3 linked regions of the Homo sapiens genome follow. The protein of the gene in region 1 purifies or fractionates together with the protein of each later gene. This does not show direct contact. Each region holds a gene or a part of one and is shown on either strand. Other genes may lie near its edges. The genes, in order: POMP, PSMA6 and PSMG2.

What was found.
Region 2: the proteins of POMP (region 1) and PSMA6 purify together in Homo sapiens (affinity purification with western blotting; 4 studies listed by BioGRID and IntAct, with this or other methods). This does not show direct contact.
Region 3: the proteins of POMP (region 1) and PSMG2 purify together in Homo sapiens (co-immunoprecipitation; 8 studies listed by BioGRID and IntAct, with this or other methods). This does not show direct contact.

What each region holds. Positions count from the first base shown.
Region 1 is NC_000013.11:28,654,285-28,662,189, reverse strand, and holds the start of POMP (proteasome maturation protein), read right to left. Parts: upstream 3,061-7,905; 5' UTR 3,006-3,060; coding exon 3,003-3,005; intron 1-3,002. UniProt on the Homo sapiens protein: Molecular chaperone essential for the assembly of standard proteasomes and immunoproteasomes. Degraded after completion of proteasome maturation. Mediates the association of 20S preproteasome with the endoplasmic reticulum.
Region 2 is NC_000014.9:35,309,285-35,316,395, reverse strand, and holds part of PSMA6 (proteasome subunit alpha type-6), read right to left. Parts: intron 5,657-7,111; coding exon 5,501-5,656; intron 3,516-5,500; coding exon 3,337-3,515; intron 2,036-3,336; coding exon 1,941-2,035; intron 1-1,940. UniProt on the Homo sapiens protein: Component of the 20S core proteasome complex involved in the proteolytic degradation of most intracellular proteins. This complex plays numerous essential roles within the cell by associating with different regulatory particles.
Region 3 is NC_000018.10:12,719,931-12,726,240, reverse strand, and holds the end of PSMG2 (proteasome assembly chaperone 2), read right to left. Parts: intron 5,732-6,310; coding exon 5,558-5,731; intron 1,743-5,557; coding exon 1,622-1,742; intron 803-1,621; coding exon 710-802; 3' UTR 501-709; downstream 1-500. UniProt on the Homo sapiens protein: Chaperone protein which promotes assembly of the 20S proteasome as part of a heterodimer with PSMG1.

The sequences.
Region 1 (7,905 bases):
TGATCTCTGAATGCTGTCAGTTTGAAAGGCATTCCAGGAAAAAATAACATGAATAAAGGCAAGAAAATATAAATGAACAAGCTTCAGGTAGTTTGAGATAACTGGCTAAATATGTTTCCAGTGAGGCAGAAGTAAAGGCTGATGAAATACAAAAGTGAAACATCTTATGTGCAAAGAAATATGGGTTTTATTCCAAAACTGAAAGCCTCTGAAAGGTTATGGCATGATTGAATTTGTTTCCCCTGGAAAAACCACTCCCTTAGGTTAGAGTGTATAACACAGAATAAAAAAGTTGAAGACAGCATCCTCGGGAATACTATTCCCTGAGGACAAGGAAAAACAACACAGAAATGGGATTAACAGACAGGATGGATAAAGAAAAGTAGAGAAGCTGGGAAAAAAAGGGAATTTCAGAAAGTGTTTGGTTTCTATATGAAGATAGCGCTACCTATAAAAACTATGTGTATCTAATCAGGATAGTATAAAACAAAGTAAAAAAGACAGTGCATTTGGTATTGGTGTATGATTACCCTACGCTACTGTGAAATGCGCAATCACCAGATACTTATTAGCCATCTACTATGTGTCAGGTACTCTGCTAGATACTGAAGCTACATGTCTACCTCCCGGGGCTTCAGCTTATGAAAATATATTAAACAAGCAAAGAAAACATGGTGTTACAACAGGCAAAGCATGAGATGCTAACTTTATTTATTTACTTTTTGAGATAGGGTCTTGCTCTGTCATCCAGGCTGGAATGCAGTCGAGCAATCACGGCTAACTGCAGCCTAGACTTCCCAGGTTCAAGCGATCCTCCTGCCTCAGCCTCTCAAGTAGCTGGGACTACAGGCGTGCAACATCACGCCTGGCTAATTTTTTTATTTTTTGTGGAGATAAGGTCTCAACTATGATGGCCAGGCTAGTCTCAAACTCCTGTGCTCAAGCCATCTTCCTGCCTCAGCACCCCCCAAAGTGCTGGAATTACAGGTGTCAGCCAGCATGCACGGCCCAAGACGCTAACTTTAAATCACTTGTTGCTCAAGTCCAATATCCCTGTGATTCTGCAGAAAAATGTAAAACAGCTACAGGTAGTTTTAGTATCAAATTTTATATTATTCTAGAAGAAAATATTCTGAGAAGTCAGCTTTTTAACTGATTTCTTAATTCGTTTGTATATTTGATTTAGTCAGGTATTTTATCCTTTGCAGGGTTTCTTCACTATACCACTCCAGCCCAGCCTATCACACATGGATAACTTCAACAGCATTCTACTGGGTCTTGCTGCCTTTAGACTCACCCATTTTCCAGTTCTGTATATCAAGGTTTTCCTCAAGCATGAAACCTCCTCCAACAAAACTGCTATAAAATCTTTGTTGGTTCATCGATGTCTGAAGCACAAAGTTCAGACTCCTTAGCCTGGACCTAAAGAACCTGCATAATAGGTTCCAACTCCCCTACATACAAGAAGTCATGGTGGACGAGGAAAAGAATCTGGACTCTAGTGTGGACTGTCACTAACCTACTTTGTGACTGCCAGCAAAGCACCAACCTCTCTGGCCTTGTTTACTCATCTGCACCAAGGAGCTGAACTCCTACCAGGACTACAAATGCTCCTTGACTTATGATGGGGTTACTTCCTAATAAATCCATCTTAAATTGAAAATGTCAAAAGTCAAAAACACATTTAACACACCTAACCTACTAAACATCAGGCCTTAGCCTAGCCTACCTTAAATGTGCTCAGAACACTTACACTAGCCTACAGTCGGCCAAAATCATCTAATACAAAGCCTACTTTATTAAAAAGTACTGGGTATCTCATGTAATTTATTGAATACTGTACTGAAAGTGAAAAACAGAATGGCTGTATTGGTACTCAAATATGGCCTCTACTGACTGTGTATGGATTTCACACCATCATAAAGTCAGAAGATTGTTGAACCACCAGAAGTTGGGGACCTTCAGCAGAGATGTGTGATTGTTGCTTTCCAAATGTATCTTCTATTACTTCCCTATATGAACATTCTCCTCCTTCTGGACTGCTTTATTGTAAAGTAACAAGGTTTCAACGCACAAAGAAAAGGTGAATTCTGACTTCTGGATTCTGTTATTGTCATTTTTCCCAATTTCCTTCTGTAAAATATCAAGATTAGTACTTGCTGTTTCTAATAAAGGAAGGAGCCGAGAAAGGCAAATCTACGAAAACCTAACTACTAGTTACATTTGAGAGTGCCTAAAAAACTTTTTAGATAACGATTAGCAGTATTTACCAATAGAAACTTTCTAGATTTGGATGGATGGCCTACCAGCAGTACCGATATCAGAGTCTGTGGCAATGGTGACTCAGTGTTCTTCTCAAATACCACAACTTCTAAGTTAAAAAGAAAGAGAAAGTGGTGGGGAGGAGAAGGAGGGAGGAGATATACTAACAATACTGGCAAACAGGGAATAGCAACTGTCTGATTTTTTCCCCTCTAACATCTAGCACACTACAAGCTCTCAAAAAAGTTTGTAGAGCAAAGCTGCGTTACACAAATGCGACCTATAGTTGTGGGCTGTTTACTAGGCAGTTACAAGGGCGGGGGCTGGGGGAGATGAGGAGTCTGAGAGCTCTGGGCTCCCAGAGGTTACCCGTCAAGGAAAGGGTCGCCAGCGCCACCCCACAGAACGTTGCACTTTCACGGCTGCCTTTTCCACTTCTGCGCCAAGTAAGGGGAGGAGGTCTGGGCCTGCTGGGGTCTAAGGGATGGAAGGGCGCAAACCGAGCTAAGAGGAGCAGGATGAAGCCGAAGCACTGCTAGTGGGACTAGTGCCGGGCCCCGGCGACAGTCACGACCCACCCAAACCCCGTGACTCGACAGATTATGGCGCCTGAGGCCGGCCTCAGCCCCACGCTGCCGCCGCCGCCGCCACCGGGGACGGGTTGGGAGGCGACTGCCTGTTTCTGCCGAGCCACGGTCCCGAGCCCGCGTGGAACTCCAGCCGCCCGGGTACCCACTCACCATCTTCCGCAGCTCTGCGAACAGCCTCTCTGCCCCGTTACCGTCAGTCGACCCCGCCGCTCACTTCCGTTTCCGAGGGCTGGCCCCCACATCCGCCGGAAGTGCGTCCGTCCTGGCGAGGAAGGAAGGAGGGCGCGGGACGCCGGAGGGAGCTGCGCGGGGCCGAGGCTCCCACGCTTGCAATCCCAAGGGACCCAGGGCCAAGGGCGCAGTAAGGGTGTGGGCTGGGAGGAGGGAGGGGTCGGGACGAGACGTGCCTGAGGGGAGGGAAGACACGGACTCCGGTTTATTAATAAACATCTACGGTTTGTACGGCATTTTAAGATGTGCAGTGTGCTTTTGTAGGTACATCGCCTTATTTAACACAAAACCTCTCTGAGGTAGCTATTACATTTCACAGAAGGGTAAACGAGGCGTAGGTGGTTTGAGTGATTTGCTTGAGATCGTTCGGCTAATAAAGCAAAATTGGGACACAAGGCTTTTGTCATTTTTAAAAAACATAATATTGAAGGCCTGGTATGTTCCGAACCCTGTGCTGAGGCTAGGAATACAAAAAAGGACCAGGCCGGTGTGGCCTCTGGGCTAGAGGAGCAGGGGTACTCCGGAGGCTAGAGGGGAGAGAGGGGACGATAGTGACTACAAATTAAGTAAATGTGATCATGACCGACATATGTTGGGCCCTTTGAATTGCGTTATCAACACAGTTCTAAGTGCTTACATCCTTTATCTCTTTTAATCTTTTCAATAACCTTACAAGTACAATTTACAGGTGAAGAAACCGAGACATGAAGGGCTTAAATAAATATGCCTAAGGACATATTTATGAGTCTAGAATCCATGCTCATTACACTATTCTGTATTGTTCAAATATAATGTAATAAAACGGCCTTATAGTCTGCTGCCACAGGATGGAGACATCTTAGGGAATCTTTGGACTGACAGCTAAAAGATAAGAGCGAACTAGTTTGGGGTAGTAGGATATTTAAAACAACATTACGTGCAGATCTGCTTGTGCAAAAACGGAACTGGAAAGAAGGCCTAAGTCTGGCTAAAGTTCAGAAAGTAAAGTGGAGAGTACTGTGAGATGAGGTTGTAAGTAGATGGAGGCAAGTGGTTTTTGTTGTTGTTTTTGTTTGTTTGTTCTAAATAATGATAGGGTTTAGCTATGTTGCCCAGGTCTGCGTTGAACTCCTGGGCTCAAGCGATTCTCCTGCTGCAGCCGGCTGAGTAATGGGAACTACAGGCGTGCATCATGGGACCTAGCTACAGGTTTTTTATGCAGCCTTTGTAGGCAAGATTAAGGATGAGGCTTTGTCTTTAAAAAGCCATCGAAGGATTTGAGAGAGGAAAATGATAAGGCCATATATGTTATGTATATCCACTGCCATGGTCATACAACTTTGAAGTTCCAGATGTTATGTGTTCTGCCATGCTGTCCTTTAGGTGTCTTCTGGTCCTTCACAATAGCCATGTTTAATCCTGAGATTTGAGTTGGAGTGTTTCGTTTGCATCTTTTTTTCTTTCCGTCAATTCCACCTGAGAAATTGTAAAACTGCGAATCTTTTCTTAAAAATCATTTTAACATTTGCTGATTGCTCACAGTTCAATGAATATGTATTGAACATTTGCTTGGTACTAGATTCTGGAGCTATAAAGAAGAAAAGAGCAATTCCCTGTACCTGAGATGCTTATATATTTTCCTGGGGAAATAGACATGCAAACAGATATTTAAAATGCAGCATGGGCTGGGTGCAGTGGCTCACACCTGTAATCCTAGCACTTTGGGAGCTGGAAGCAGGCAGATCACTTGAGGTCAGTAGTTCGACACCAGCCTGGCCAACATGGCAAAAGCCCATCTCTACTAAAGATACAAAAAAAAAAATTAGCCAGACATCATGGTGCATGCTTGTAGTCCCAGCTATTCAGGAGACTGAGGCACGAGAGTCGCTTGAACCTGAGAGGTAGAGGTTGCAGTGAGCAGAGATCACGCCACTGCACTCCAGCCTAGGTGACACAGCAAGACTCCATCTCAAATAATAATAATAAAATAATAAAATGCAGTGTGATAAATGCTTGATAGAGAAAGGGGCTAAACCAGAAAGTTGTTGGGAGCAGGAGAAAACAGCATTCACGGAAGAGGAACATGTAAAGGCAAGAGATCTGTGAAAAGTCGTGTTGTTATCTGAGTAATGGAAAACATTTCCCTGTGGCTGGAGCTCTGGGTGAGCAGGTGAAGCAAAATGAGATGAGGTTGGAGGGACAGGTTGGGGCCAAAACGAAGGGCCTTCTATGGTATGCTGAGGTTTAGGGCTTTTTCTTATAGACAACAGGAGATAATGGAGGTCTTTTCACAAACATTTGGCATTAAAAAAAAAAAATTCTGGTGGCAGCATGAAGGACAGACTAAGATTGGGAGAAAGTAGGAACCAGGATACCATTTAAGCCACTAATGGTACGCTAAGGTAGTGTCACATACTGGAAAGGCTTTGAAAGGAAGGAAAAAGTAGGAGTGAACCTAAGAAATACCAGAATTCAAAAGACAGCCAGAAGAAGGGGAGCCTGCTTTAAAGGCTATGCCATCTTCGAATCAAAAGGGCAAGGAAGTATTGAGAGGTTAGAAAGTAGTTCAAAAGTAGCTAAAAAGGGATCATAAAGCCCTGAAAATAGGCTTTTGGTGACCAGTGTGAAGAGTTGTTTTAGTGGCTCAGCAAGGAGAAAATTCCCTTTATTTTGAGTCTTACACTCAAGTTTATGTCCTATTTTAAATGGTTTGTTACAGTATTAACTAATACGGGGTACTTTTGAGTATGCTAAATAAGAAGTAAATTAGATTTGATGCTGGAATGATTTAATTATGTTTACTTAAGCTTTATGTTAAATAGCTTAGAGGATAGAACATTAGTAATGATAGCTAACATTTGTTACATGTCAGGCCAGGGTTTAGTTTTTTGCATATATTGTTTCAATTAATCCTGTGAGGTAGATACTATCATTATGCACATTTCACAGAAAATGCTGAGGCATTGTATGAGAACAAGCACCCTATTTTGTTTTACTTTTTGTAGTCGTCTTTGACTTTACTCTTAAGTCAGTCTGGTGACATAGCTAGGTAAACTGAGGACAAATTCAGCTTCATTCACATCTGGCAAGAACCCTCCTCCCTCCTCCTAGCTCTTTCCCCATTTGTTACCTCATCTGTCTCCTGTTTGGGTACTATTCTTGTACTTCATCTTGTCAGCTGAATTTGGGTCTTCTGACCTAAATTTTAGTGCTCCCTAACGATCTAAAATTACACTTAACTTTGCTCTTTTCTGTTATTTGCCTAAGCTTGGCCCTGGGCACCCAAACCCTATTACCCAGCCTGCTTGGTTAGCCCCCTCTTAAAAGCTGCTTTGTCTCCACAGCACAGTGCCTTGCATACTTTAGGCAGGTACTCAGCAGGATTTTGAAATCTAGTATGTAGTGAGTGTCTCTTTAGAACTTAAGAAGCTGGAAGAGGCATAGAGAAGAGAGGTCTGAAAATGTCTCAGAGCTAAGGAAGATACGATGTTGAGATAAGGGAATGACCAGTGATGTCAGATAATGATTATGGGAAGATCGATGGGGTTTGGCAAATGGGATGTCATTTGCATAATCTTCTGGTGAGCAGTTTAACTATAAACCAGATTGTTAGGAATGAAGAATTTATAAGAAGAAAATGGAGGCAGCCAAATTTTATAGATCATTCTTTTCAGAAAGTTGTCCATTTCAAAAAATAGAATCAGGATTTTGGTTTGAATGAAAGTTGGGTTTTGTTTTTGTTTCATGTGCATGATTGGACAGACCAAAGTTTGTTAGGCAGATGTTAGAAAGAGTTGGTGAAGGGGCAAGAGTGAAGACAGCAGGGAAGAGAAGCAGCAAGAAGGAATGATTGAGATAATGATCTCTCAGATGCCCAGAACAGTTGTGAGAGGGAATCAAGGACAAAGATGCAGCTGTTAGAAAAAGGAGGCAGGCCCAGGCGCAGAGACTCACTCCTGTAATCCTAGCACTTTGGGAGGCTGAGGCAGGTGGATCACCTGAGGTCAGGAGTTCAAGACCAGCCTGGCCAACATGGTGAAACCCTGTGTCTACTAAAAATATAAAATTAGCTGGGCATGGTGGTGCACGCCTGTAATCCCAGCTACTCGGGAGGCTGAGGCAGGAGAATCACTTGAACCCAGGAGGTGGAGGTTGCAGTGAGCCGAGATGGTGCCACTGCACTCCAGCCTGGGCGACAGAGCGAGACCCTGTCTCAAAAAAAAAAAAAAAAAAAAAAAAAATTATGCTTCCCTACAAGGCTAGGGGTGGAGGAGTAGTTCATATAAGGGTAGTGGTATTATACAAATCTTAAACAATAAGAAAATTACTAGGTTTTCGAGGGCCTGAAAAGAATCTATAAGTTATAAAAAATATATCCAGATCTTCTTTAAATGATTTAAATTCTTACAGTGTTGGGAAGGGTTCAATATGCATAATTTAGGATAAGTCATATTTACAAATCTTCTCTGCAAGCCCCTTCCTATGTGTTAAGAGATGGAGAAATATCAAGTTCATTTGACCCTTTAACCCTAAGAGATGAGTGTTTCATATTTTGAAATATTTTACTAGCTATAATTTCAGATGCAGCTGCTTTTAAAAGAGTGTCTGCTGATTATGAAAAGCTGGGTTTTGAGAATAAGTACTAGAGTAGACTATTTGGAATCCAGGAGTTTTATTTTACTACTTTACATCTGCATTGCATCAGACATGGCGCAAGTTAGCATTCCATTTTTCATGCTTTTGTAGCCCTATTTTAGGTCTGTCTGTGCTCAGAATTGGTTTATATTTTCACCATAATCTATTCATTTGCCTGCACAGCATACAGCTGATAGATTATATGCAA
Region 2 (7,111 bases), on another chromosome or scaffold:
TTTTTTTTTTGAGATGGAGTCTGACCCTGTCGCCCAGGCTGGAGTGCAGTGGCACAATCTTGGCTCACTGCAACCTCCGCCTCCCAGGCTCAAGCAATTCTCCTGCCTCAGCCTCCCAAGCAGCTGGGATTACAGGCGTCCACCACCACATCTGGCTAATTTTTGTATTTTTAGTAGAGATGGGGTTTCACCATGTTGGCCAGGCTGGTCTCAAACTCCTGACCTCAAGTGATCTGTCCACTTTGGCCTCCCAAAGTGCTGGGATTACAGGTGTGAGCCACCATGTGTGGCCCTGAACATGTATTTTCTAAATGATGTTTGCCTCGAAAGGAAGCAATTGTTTGGCAACCTTGTTAATGTGACCTATTACTACTAGACTTCTAAAAAGTGAAATTTGTCAAAAGGACATTTTTTAGTGCAACTGAAGGCAATATCAAGCAGTTTAAATAGTTGTTGATGCTTATGCTATGTACTGTAATTATTTACATATATTTACTATCACAGAATTTATAAATGATACAAAGTTTTTTGAAGACAAGATTTTTGATTCCTTACCAATTTAAAAAATAACAAATACAATTTTAAAGGTGGCAGGAAGGTCTCCAAACAGAAAAGAAAACAAGAACTAATTGTAGGTTCCTTAGAGAGATTTTAAGATTATTCTTGCTGAAATTTTTACTTAAAAAAAAAAAAGGCACCTTTTTCAAAAGCAACTTGATCCCTGCCCCCACCCCTCACCCCTACCCCAACCCAAGTTACAAGACTTCTTCCTACGGGAAGAAAAGCTAGGATAGATTCGCTTTTGGTGTTGTCGGTTGTTTTTTTAACAGATGAGGTCTCACTATGTTACCCAGGCTAGAGTGCAGTGGCTATTCACAGGCACTATCATTGCGCACTACAGCTTTCAACTCCAAGGCTCAAGCCATCCTCTTGCCTCAGCCTCCTGAGGAGCTGAGACTACAGATGCATGCCACAGCACCCAGCTGTTTTTTTTTTTTTAAAGTCCTATGAATTTTTCTGAATCTGTCATGTTTATATGACTTATCTGTGGGCAACCAAAAGAACAAATTAGGAAAAAAAAGAACAAACGAAAAACCTCTTCAAGGTCTAGTTAAGCTTAGTTTACCACTCCCGTACCCCACACCACAACCAAGACCATGTGTCTTTATGGTTGTGATCTAAGAATAGATACACATAATAGTTAAAATGCCTCCCAGTAGTTCCTTGTATCTGTCGATTTAACTGCAGTATTTTCATTAAAGATAAGAGCATCCTGGTCCATGGTATATCAACTGCCTCACAGGGCTGCTGGGAGGATTAAATGAGCTGATTATACGAAGCACTCAGTATGGATTTGAATCATGGAAGCTATAAGGCTGATGTGTGGGAGTTAGTCACTTAGTGAGTAAGAACACACACACACACACACACACACACACACACACACATCCAGCAACTGCAAGTCAATTAGCTGTATTCAAAATTTGGGCTTTCCAAAGATCTCTAGATAAGGGTCTGACATATATCAGTAACTCATATTGCTCCTCAAAGTTCTACTTAAATAACCACTAAATAACCAAAGTTCTATCTGAAAAACTTGCAAACTACTACTTTGGGAATTGAATTTGTATTGGCCTTAAACTAAAAAAAAGAAAACACTTATGCTAATTTTTTTCCTTACATAAGGAAGGTAACTTTATGTCATCTCTGGTGTTAGATATAAAATCACTCTGAAATAAGGAGAAAAGCTTTCATATCTGACTCTTAAATAGAGTCCAAAGTTTTAAAAACAGATCTCAGGTGCTGGGGAAAAAAACAAACACACAAACAAAAACTATAATGACAGTTAAAGAAAAAAGATTTCCCCCACAAGTTATAGGACACATGGACTCACACGCCTCCACCTTTCTAGTCTGCATGTGGCCCACAATATCACTCACCTGAATTTAGGATTTTCAACTGTCACTACTCCAACTTCTATTTCTGAAGGTTTGAAATCAATTGATAGAACAGTAGACAGGCATGTAATTGCAGTCTGAAAAAAAGTATTTAATGTTAAAATATAGTATTTTTTAGAGATTCCAAGGTTTTCTCATTCCTAGCTTATTCAAATCATGAGTCAATCAGGAGCTCCATGTTTCAATGAGGTAGTTCAATGTTACTAACAGACTGCTTAACTCTAATGTATTGCCTCCCAATGATGAGAAATTTTTTTCTACCAAGTCAAATAATAAAGGGGTCCATTAATTAAAATAGGATGATTTATACAAAAAGGTTTATTGGCTTCATGACCCAGGCACTACACTTCACTTAGCACTTGGGGTGAAATGGGAAAAGGATAAAGATGAATGATACTCTCTGCATCTTCAAGGAATTTACAGTAAAAACGATTTAAGAATGTTTTAAGTGTTGTTTGTTTGTTTTGTTTCTGTTTTTTGAGGCAGAGTCTCACTCTGTCGCTCAGTCTGGAGTGCAGTGGCGCCAGCCTGGCTCACTGCAACCTCAGGCTCGTGGATTCAAGCGAGTCTCCTGACTCAGTCTCCTGAGTAGCTGGAATTACAGGCGCCTGCCACCATGCCCGGCTAATTTTTGTATTTTTCATAGAGACAGGGTTTCGCCATGTTGGCCAGGATGGTCTCAAACTCCTGACCTCAGGTGATCTGTCTGCCTCCCAAAGTGCTGGGATTACAGGTGTGAGCCACCTTAAGTGTTTTTTTACCGGATGTGGTTATTTATGTAATTAATTATGAATTGCAATAAAAGAAACCTTTAAGAAATATTTAGACAGGGCCCAGTACTTCCTGAACATGAACTAGCTTTTTATCTCCTTTAAGCATACTTCCAAACCAAACGTAAAAGCATTAGATGGTAATTTTTTTTTGGTCACTTATCAGAAGCATGTTGTTAGCATCTTCAGAATGGCTTTAATTCCAGACTTACACCCAAAATCTACTAAAATTTTTGTTTTTAATTTCTTGGCAGTAAATAGGACTGGCCTCGAACACCTAGACTCAAGCAGTCCTCCAGCTTCAGCCTCTCAAGTAGCTGGGACTACAGGTGTGTGCCACCATGCCCAGCTGGTTCCTATTTTTATTTATATTTTCCTATTATATGCGTTTTGTTGAAAGCCACCTCAAATACATTACGAAATAAGGAATTAAGTGAATAAAAGCAACTCAAATTTTCCTATGTCAGCTGTATGATATCAATTTCATTATTAAGTTGACAACTTGAATCCTGGGATGTAATTCAGGAATAGCTTTGTATAGAAATTATACAAAGATCCTCACTGTTCTATATAGCATAAAAAAAGTCAGCTCCTTTTGGTTGACTTACTTCCACTGTCTGTTCAAATGTCCAATCAAATTTCTTCTTCACTTTTTTTTCAAGGAAGCTGGTTGACTCAGTTTGTTTAACTCCCGCTGCAGTGGCTTTAAACCCACAGTAGTAACCTGCAGGATCACACTTATATACCTGAGGGCCTTGCTCTTCATCTATACCAATTAAAATCATACCTAAAAAGAGAAAAGACCCTAATTAAATGTTTTAGCTTTATACAATGACATCTCCTCTTTCTTGGTGGTGTCACATAGCTGCTGCTAATCATGACTTTGGCCATCAATTTTAGGATATGTATTTTCCTTTAAGAAAACTGATAAAATACAGGTTATCACCACAGGTAAATTAGGTAACAGGTAAATTCCCATTTCACAAAAGGATTTATCACAGATTAAAAAAAATAGTTTGAATAATTACAAATACAATTTAAAAATAGTGTTTCCAATCCTTGCTGTTATCCAAGCATGTTTATTTGAACCCTAATCCTTCAAGATGTTGCCTGGTCAAATAAACTTCAAAAACACTTTTTTTTTTTTTTTTTTTTTTTTTTGAGACAGACTCTCGCTCTGTCTCCCAGGCTGGAGTGCAGTGGCACGATCTCGGCTCACTGCAAGCTCCTCCTCCCGGGTTCACGCCATTCTCCTGCCTCAGCCTCCCGAGTAGCTGGGACTACAGGTGCCCACCACCACGCCCAGCTAATTTTTTGTGTTTTTAGTAGAGACCGGGTTTCGCCGTGTTAGCCAGGACTGGTCTTGATCTCCTGACCTTGTGATCCACCTGCCTCGTCCTCCCAAAGTGCTGGGATTACAGGCGTGAGCCACTGCATCTGGCCAACCTTTTTTTTTTTTTTTTTTTTTAGGAGACGAGGACTCGCTGTTGCCCAGGGTGGTCTTGAACTCCTGGGTTCAAGTGATCCTCCTGCCTCGGCCTCCCAAAGTGCTGGGATTATAAGTGTGCACCACTGTGCCTGGCCCAAAAACACTTTCATATACCTTTTCTGGAAACAGATAATAAATAATAGCATATTAAATGCTGTGAAATATTCTGTTGTAGATTGACCTATTTAACTTTAACTCAGTAGTTCTTCTGTTTGTTTGACCAAGAAATACTTTTTTTTTAAAATAGAAATACCTATTAAGGTTCCAGGGAACAGTGTATGGGACACACTTTGGGAATGCTGGCACAAACTGAAATACACTTACAGGCTACCTGCTCACCTTTACACTGCCCATCTTCATTACTGTTGGTATATACTCCTCTAGTAAGTCACACAAACCAAGCTCTAAATTCTATACATGTAACTTTGTTACTACAATTCTAATGTTACCATATTATAGGAATACAATTAAAATAAACACCATCATTAAATTTCTTTCTACTCAGTAGAACAGGTAACAAAGTACTTAATGGTTTGACTGCTTTCTTATATTTGATATATACAAAATATAAGGGCAACACAAAAAAGTACCCACTTACTGCTTGGGGAAACAACAAATACTTCTTTCCTTCAAGGTCTTGCAAGATGAATATGATTTAAGTAATTTTTAAGTGAGAAGTCAAGAGGGTCAGATGCTAAACAGAAATCATTACACTGACTGCTTTAATGCTCATAAATGAATGACACAATGTCAGAAACAAACATGCACTGAATTTTTCAGGCTAATTTATTACATCACATCTAAAAATCAGTAAATCTCATCCCTCTCCCAATACAATTTTACTTGTTTTCAAAAATAGAAATTTATTCTAAAAATGTGAATTACACACCTGTGTGTGACCCTAATTCTTTAGGGTGGTCAAAACAAACAGCTACATTATTAAGATGCCTGATGCAGGTATTTCTATGGAATTAGTAATCTCGAATTGCAGTAGAACCTCATTACAACATCCTAATAATGAGGACTTGCATCTTTCAAATCACATACACCAAATGGAAATACTTTGATAAAAAGTCTAACAGCATCTAAAGCTTAAAGATAATGCCCGACATACTGTTGTGAAACCTATCCTTTAGTTCTGATTTATTATAAAGATTTTCCCACTCTATGTATTTTCCAAACCACATGTTCAGAACTCAAGTGTTATTTAAATAATTCTGTATACATGTTCTGTAAAAAGTTTCAATTCATCAATTATTTGGGAGACCTCTTAGCATACTTACAACAACCAAGAGGCCTCATTTCAGCATTCTGTGTGTAGACCTGAGAAATATCGGCAATTCTTTTACACAGCATGTCCACAGGAATCTCATAGCCATACTTGTATTTCCAGTTAGCTGCCTCATAGCGTGCCCTCTGTACCTGGGATCTGCTGTCAGCTTATAGCATAAAAAACAAAGATTTACCTGGTTAGAAGGAAAGAACAAACCTGAAAGCCAGGCAATTTAGCCAGGCAATTTTCCCACCATATAGACATACATGAGTTAAAGAGAAAGGGTCCGCTACGGCTTTTTCTCCCCCAATGAATACTAAATAACTCATCAACAAGTATATGAAAAAAATTTAAAAACATGAAGCTCTCTACACAGTACTCCCCTTTTATACTGAGCCTTTCATCAGCAGTCAAAATAGTTTCTGCAAGTATCCAGTAACTCCCAAAAGAAAAAGCATTAAGGAGGCAGGGCATGGTGGCTCAACACTTTGGGAGGCCAAGAGAGGCGGATCACTTGAGGCCAGGAGTTTGAGACCAGCCTGGCCAACATGGCTAAATCCTGTCTCTACTAAAAACATAAAATTAGCTGCACGTGGTGGTGCATGCCTGTAGTCCCAGCTACCTGGGAGGTTGAGGCACGAGAATTGCTTGAACCCAGGAGGCGGAGCAGCCTGGGCGACAAAGTGAGACTCTGTCTCCAAAAAAAAAAAAAAAGGCCTTGAGAGAGAATAATCTTTCTTAATCTTTGTTTTTAGGCTTAAATTAGTTTTTCATTTTTTTTTTAGAGATGGGGTCTTGGACTGGCACCCAGTGAGCCATCATAGCTCACTGCAGCCTTGAATTCCTTGGCTCAAGTGATCCTCCTACCTCAGCCTCCTGAGTAGCTAGGACTACAGGTATGTGCCACCATACCAGCTAATTTTTTTTTCTTCTTCAAATGGAGTCTTGCTCCGTTGCCCAGGCTGCAGTACAGTCTCATGATCTTGGCTCACTGCAACCTCTACCTCCCGGGTTCAAGCGATTCTCCTGCCTCAGCCTCCTGAGTAGTTGGGATTACAGGCACCTGCCACCATAGCTGGTTAAGTTTTTTGGTATTTTTGTTTTTATTTTTTGAGACAGTCTCACTCTGTTGCCGAGGCTGGAGTGCAGTAGTACAATCTCAGCTCACTGCAACCTCTGCCTCCCGAGTTCAAGCAATTCTCCTGCCTCACCCTCCTGAATAGCTGGGATTACAGGTGTGCGTGCGCCACCATGCCCAGCTAATTTTTGTATTTTTGGTAGAGATGGAGTTTCACCACGCTGGCCAGGCTGATCTCGAATTCCTGACCTCAAGTGATCCGCCTGCCTCGGCCTCCCAAAGTGCTGGGATTACAGGTGTGAGCCACCGTGACCAGCCCCTAGCTAATTTCTAAATTTGTTATAGAGATGGAGTCTCACCATGTTGCCCAGGCTGGTTTTGAACTCTTGGTCTTAAACAATCCTCTCACCTTGGCCTCCCAAAGTGCTGGGATTACAACTGTGAGCCACTGTGCCCAACCTAAAATAATTTTCATAATAATTCTCACTCACTTCTAACCGATGCCATTATTACCAGGTTTGAGATATACTGAGTTAGGTCCCC
Region 3 (6,310 bases), on another chromosome or scaffold:
ATAACTGAGAGATTTGAAGATGCTAAGCTGCTGGCTTTGAAGATAGAAGGGCCCATGAGCCAAATAATATGGCAGCCTCTAGAAGCTGGAAACAGCAGAACACAAATTCTCCCTAAGGCCTTCCTCAGGAGCAGTGCCCTGCGATCACCCTGATTTTAGTCTCGTCAGACCCACTGTTGGATTTCTGACTCCTAGAACTCAGAAGTCAGAATTTAAAAGCAAATTTGTGGCTGGGCATAGTGGTGTAATGCCTGTAATCTCAGCACTTTGGGAGGACATGGCAGGAGGATTGCCTGAGCCCAGGAGTTTGAGACCAGCCTGGGCAACATGGCAAGACCTCGTCTCATTTTACTTAAAATACAGAATGAAAATTAATTAATTAGTTAATGAAAAAATTAAACTGGTGTGTTTTAAGTCACTAAGTTTGTGGTGATTTATTAGAGACAAACTAGGAAGCTAATAGAGAGTCTGAAATTAAAAAAAATACATTTAAGACAAAATTACTTAGGAAATAAAATTTTATTGTACAAAATTTACATTTGGTGCATATGATGAAAAGCATGGCAAAGAGACCCTTAATCTTTTTTCTTTGATATTTACTGTGAAAGTAATTTCCTAATACCAGATCATACAATTTTTTTGTATAGAATGTTTAACAGCTGTGTTGGTAGTAAGTGTTTTGGGTATAAGGTATAAAACAGAAATTAGATCAGAAAAGTGCAGGGGGAAGACCACTGCCAAAGAGTAATCTCCAAGAACTTGGTATTTTCCACCGTGAGGCAGATACTGTGGGGTCATCGCTCTGTAATTGAAGAACAAAATATTTTAATCTTTAAACTTTACCATCAAATCTCCTTTTAAAGTGAATTATAAAACTCTCCTTTTGTGTTCCTTTTGGTTGGCACTTTTATAGCCAGGTTTTATTGTTAAGGAAAAATAAAGTTTCTTTGTCTTCATGTCAACTGAAGATAAATTTCTTTAAGTTCCAAATTATAAAGATATGCCAGAAAGGCTGTAGATGAAGTTTATTAGGGAAAATCACATTCAAAAAGAATAGGGATTAAAAAAAAAATCAGCATTATGTGATTTGTATCAATTTGTTCTTGGCAAAAGCATGAATTAAAAAGCTAGTTACCCATCTTAGAAAGCAGCCTTATGCTCAGTGTTCTGTTATGCCTAAAGGCTAACTCACTTCCCTGGGTGTAATGCTCTCATTTCATAATAGAGAAAAATATCAACTGTAATACATATTCAATAGCTACAGTATTGCTCACATAGCAATACTTTTTACTTCCCTAAAAAAATTCCTGAATTCCACAGAAGGCTTGTTTATTATTGCAAGACTATGTCTGGCATAATTAATCTAACATGAATAGTAAGTACAATGAAGAACTAAGGATTTTCCTTTTTGGAAAGTCAGCTTTAATGAAAAAACTGTAAATAATAGGTTGGTTAACTGTCCTCTAATTTTCAAAAGTTCAGCTTAAACTAAATTTTATGTAAAGATATGTCTATATTTAATACAAACGTTCACTTACTTGGTCTACTTAGGTAGTATATAAAGTGCGAGTTAATGAATACAACCAGACAAAGAAGAGGCTTAAGCTATAATAGAACTTACAAGTGGTTTGAGTATCTGAAGCCACTCATTAAGATACTCAACAAGACCTAATGCATCTGGGATGTTGTCCCCTTCTGAAACAAATTTCAGCAGAACTGCCATTTGGATTTCTTTAGAACAGCTACAAGAAATAAAAATAAGAATCAGTATTCTTTCATAGGGTACAAGAGCTGACTCTAGTGTGTCTGTTTTTACAGCTACGATAACCTACCTGGTTTAGGAAAGGAAAAGACGCCACACCATAAGATCACTTATCATCTCCCTTCGCCCCACACAGAGTTTTCTACTTGTGAGAGCAGGCCCCTGTAACACCCACTGGGGAACACGCACAATCATGCCTCACCCCATGGCTGCATGAAAAACCAGCCTTTCTGTCCTTGGCTACAGCAGATAAGGTATGTTCTGACCTACTCCCCAAACCTACTTCAGAAGACAGTAATTTTCAGAAGCACCACAGCAGAGACTGAAAGAAAATAACACCTAGTTACTATCTAAAGCAGTGAGGGAAACTGTGGAAGAGAATGGAATCATTAAAGGAAATAAAAGTTCCTACTTCTTCCGAAAACGCTGAGTGGTTATTATGTGTTAAGCATTATCTGCAAATTTTATGACAATCCCTGTAATAATCCTGAAGAAGCTATAATTAGCTCCATTTTATAAGTGAATCAGTTTGGAATAACGGGAACAAAGACAGACACCAGGATTCAGATTCTAGCTCTTCAACTTACCAGATATGTTGGGCAAGTTACTTAACCAGGGGTGTTCCTCATCTATAAAAGGGGGATGATAATGGAACCTACTTCACAGGTTGTTGTGAGGCTGAAAGGAGGTAGTGGAGGCAAAATGCTTAAAACAGTGACCACACAGTAAATATGAAAGAAGTATTAGCTACTTTTATGAGGTAACAGGTTTAAAGAGATTGAATACAGGCTGGGCGCGCTGGCTCAAGCCTGTAATCCCAGCACTTTGGGAGGCCGAGGTGGGCAAATCATTTGAGGTCAGGAGTTCGAGACCAGCCTGGCCAACATGGTGAAACCCCGTCTCTACTAAAAATATAAAAATTAGCTGGGCATGGTGGCATGTGCCTGTAGGTACTCAGGAGGCTGAGGCAGGAGAACTGCGTGAGACAGAGCAAGACTCTGTCGCAAATGAAGAAAAAAAGATTTAATACATAGTTAACATGCCCAAAGTTCTATATCTAGTAAGGTCTCTATATCTAACTATATCTAGTTAGGTCTCTCTAACTCCAAAACATAGTCTCCTATCATACTATAAACGCCTCAAGCTAGTGATGAGATGGAGATACACCAAGGCAAAAAGTTTCCTGCTTGCCAATAAATGCAAAAATTACTCCTAACACCCTAAAACCAAGAACTATGAGAAAAATGCCATGCCAAAACTTGAAAGCACGAGACTGACAGAGAAGAGAGCTACAGAAATAAAAGTGAGCCGAGTTCTAAGGAAGGAAAGGCACCGAGGAGACTCTGATATATACATTCGGAAGTCTCAGATGATACCAGGCTAACTTTAGTTTCTGTCTCTAAAAACTACAAAGTAGAAACTGTTAGCCTCACTCACCCTAGCCCAGTACTTGGTTCTCAAACACCTTAGGGGCTCTCAATCTTTGTATGGAACCACTATGAGCTCTGATGGCTCAGAAAATTCCAGTTCCTAAATGCGTCTGCTGTGATGGCCTCAGGCAAGGCTCTCGCCTGGAGAAGGCTGGCTCCGAGGCTGTGCTTGCATTTTCAAGGCTCTAACTTGGAAAGCGCAGGGGTATGCTCTTCAGCTTATCGCGCCTCTTATTAGTTTGTCACACAGTGTGGGATAATCATTTCAATATTACCCTCTGGTCTTCTGCTAAAAAGAAAGGCAGAGGATGACTATTATTATTACTTTTTTATTTGGAACTATTTTATTCTGGTTGATACAACTGAGTATTTTAAATATTGTTTCTTCAGGGTAAAATCCGCATTTCCTGAATGTTTGATGCTGAGTAGGTCTAACTTTTATAATACTTTCTGTTTATCACCGCTAACTTTGTGGGCAAGCTTATAGCTAACCAGAAGCTGTTCTTTGCCTGTCCTCATAGTTTCACCCTATACCCAAGAAGACAGACCCAAGGAAACAGACCCCTGGACTCTGATGAGCAGCACCCCTGCCCTCGGATTCTCTGCCCTGTATTTCCAGTTGCCTCGGCCTCCCTGTAGTCTTAACTGATTTCCTCCACTCAGCTCTGCTTGGGTTCCGCTCCCTGTGCTGCAGTCCAGAAAGTATCTCAAGCAGAAAGCCAGGCAACTGTAGACTTAAAATTTGCCTTCTCTTAGGGATGACAGCTATGTGCTGCCTGTAGTCCAATGTCTGGAAAACAGTTGTTTCATAAATTGTCAGGTTCCAGTATTTTTATGGCAGGAGGGCAAGTCTGATATCAGTTACTCTGTCTTGGTCAGAAGCAAAAGTTTAGGAGGATTGATTGGTAAAGTAAGTGCAACAAAGTATAGAAGAGGTGGAGTGCAGTGGGAGTGCAGACGCAACTTCCTTGTCTAGAAGACAGGAAAAGGCAAGATTGCAGACAGGAGGTGAAGGGTAAGTTGACTCTTAGAAAGGAGGTAGGTGTTTGCAAGGGGGACAAGAGAGGAACACGGAACAAAAACACAAGGGAAATGAGAAAATACTGAGATGAGTGAAAATGAAAACACGACATGTCAAATCCCAGGGCATGCAGTGAAAACAGCACTAAGAGGAAAATTTACAGCTGTAAACACATTCAGTAAAAAAGAAAAAAACTTTTAAATTAATAACCTAAGTTTACACCTTGGAAAAGAGAAAAAAAAGCAAATCAAATCCAAAGCTAGCGGAAAAAAATAAAGATTAGGTAAGAGAGAAATAATAGAGAATAATAGAATAATAGAGAATAGAAAAACAATAATCAGCAAAATCAAAACTGGTTCTTCAAAGAAAAACAAAACTGACAAATCTTTAGCTAGCTTGACTAGGAAAAAAAAGAAAAGACTCAAATTATTAAAATAAGAAATGAAAATGGGAACATCAACACCAATTTTACAGAAATAAAGTTGGGAGTTATTATTTATGGGTACAGATTTTTTAATTTAGTATGACGACAAAGTTCTAGAAGTAGACAGTGCTGATGGATGCAGATGCTGTGAATTAATGGCACTTGATTGTACGCTTAAATATAGTTAAAATGTGTGATAAATGTAAATTTTGCACGATGTATATTTTACCACAATTAAAAAAAAGTGCGCGTGTAGAGGTTGCAAAGAATAAGTATTAGAATCCCTAAAAAGTCACACAAAATAAAAGCATTAAATATGGCTTTTGAGAAACCAGTTCTTCTATAACCAAGTTTAAATCTTTCCCCTAAATGCAAGAGCTCTACAATAGTACCAGTTTTGTAAATATATTTTCTTTTTTTCTTTTTGAGACGGAGTCTTGCTGTCTCCCAGGCTGGAGTGCAGTGGCGCGATCTCGGCTCACTGCAAACTCCGCCTCTCGGGTTCACACCATTCTCCTGCCTCGGCCTCCCGAGTAGCTGGGACTACAGGTGCCCACCATCACGCCCAGCTAATTTTTTGTATTTTTAGTAGATACAGGTTTTTACCATATTAGCCAGGATGGTCTCGATCTCCTGGTCTTGATTGATCTGACCTCGTGATCCGCCTGCCTCGGCCTTCCAAAGCGCTAGGATTACAAGTGTGAGCCACCGTGCCCGGCCTAGCAATATATTCTCAAAGTTTCAGTAAGTAATCCAATACATTCTCTGACTTAATTTTGTTTTTTTTGTTGTTGTTTTTTGTTTGAGACAGAGTCTTGCTCTGTCACCCAGGCTAGAGTGCAGTGGCACGATCTCAGCTCACTGCATTAATTTCATTTTTAAGTAAAGTGGGAAACAAATGAACAGGCAAACAAACTCACCTTTCATCATAGAGTGTTTTTGTGATACCTCCTCCCGGAATGCGGATACAAAACTCGGAATCATCTATTTCAGGAATGCACCGGCTTTTTTCCATTTCTTCCCAGTTAAGGCTCTTTATTTTATTTTGAACACTTTTTTGCATGGAAGGTGTAAGTAGGTACCGGAAGGGAGTACTAGAAATAATCATATAGTTAACTTTTTAAAAACTCTAAAGCAAACATCGGTTCTTTAGCTAAAATTCTCTTGGTCTCCATATATTCTGCTGCACAGGCAAAACACAAGTTTCAGCAGACTTAAGTAAAAAATATTGCTCTGATTTGCTACTTACTTACTTACTTAGGAGACAATATAAAAAGACAGAAACACTTAGGCAAGCCCATTGCAAAAATTTCCCACAGCTTTCCTCCCTTCTGCCATGAAGCCTGTAATGTCTTTTGTGAAAGTCCTGGAAATTAGCTCATTTTGAAAGGTAACTCTTGGCTTGTTGGTATTTTTTCATCCTGGTTTTATAGGTGTCTAAGTGATAAAAGTTATGATCTACATCATCTAAAACAGTTACAGTGAGCCAAGACTGTGCCACTGCACTCCAGCCTGGGTGACAGAGTGAGACTCCATCCCCAAAAGAATAAAAAATAAAAAATAAATGATCTAAATGCTACATCTTGGGGCCGGGCGTGGTGGCTCATGCCTGTAATCCCAGCACTTTGGGAGGCCCAGGCAGGCAAATCACCTGAGGTCAGGAGTTCGAGACC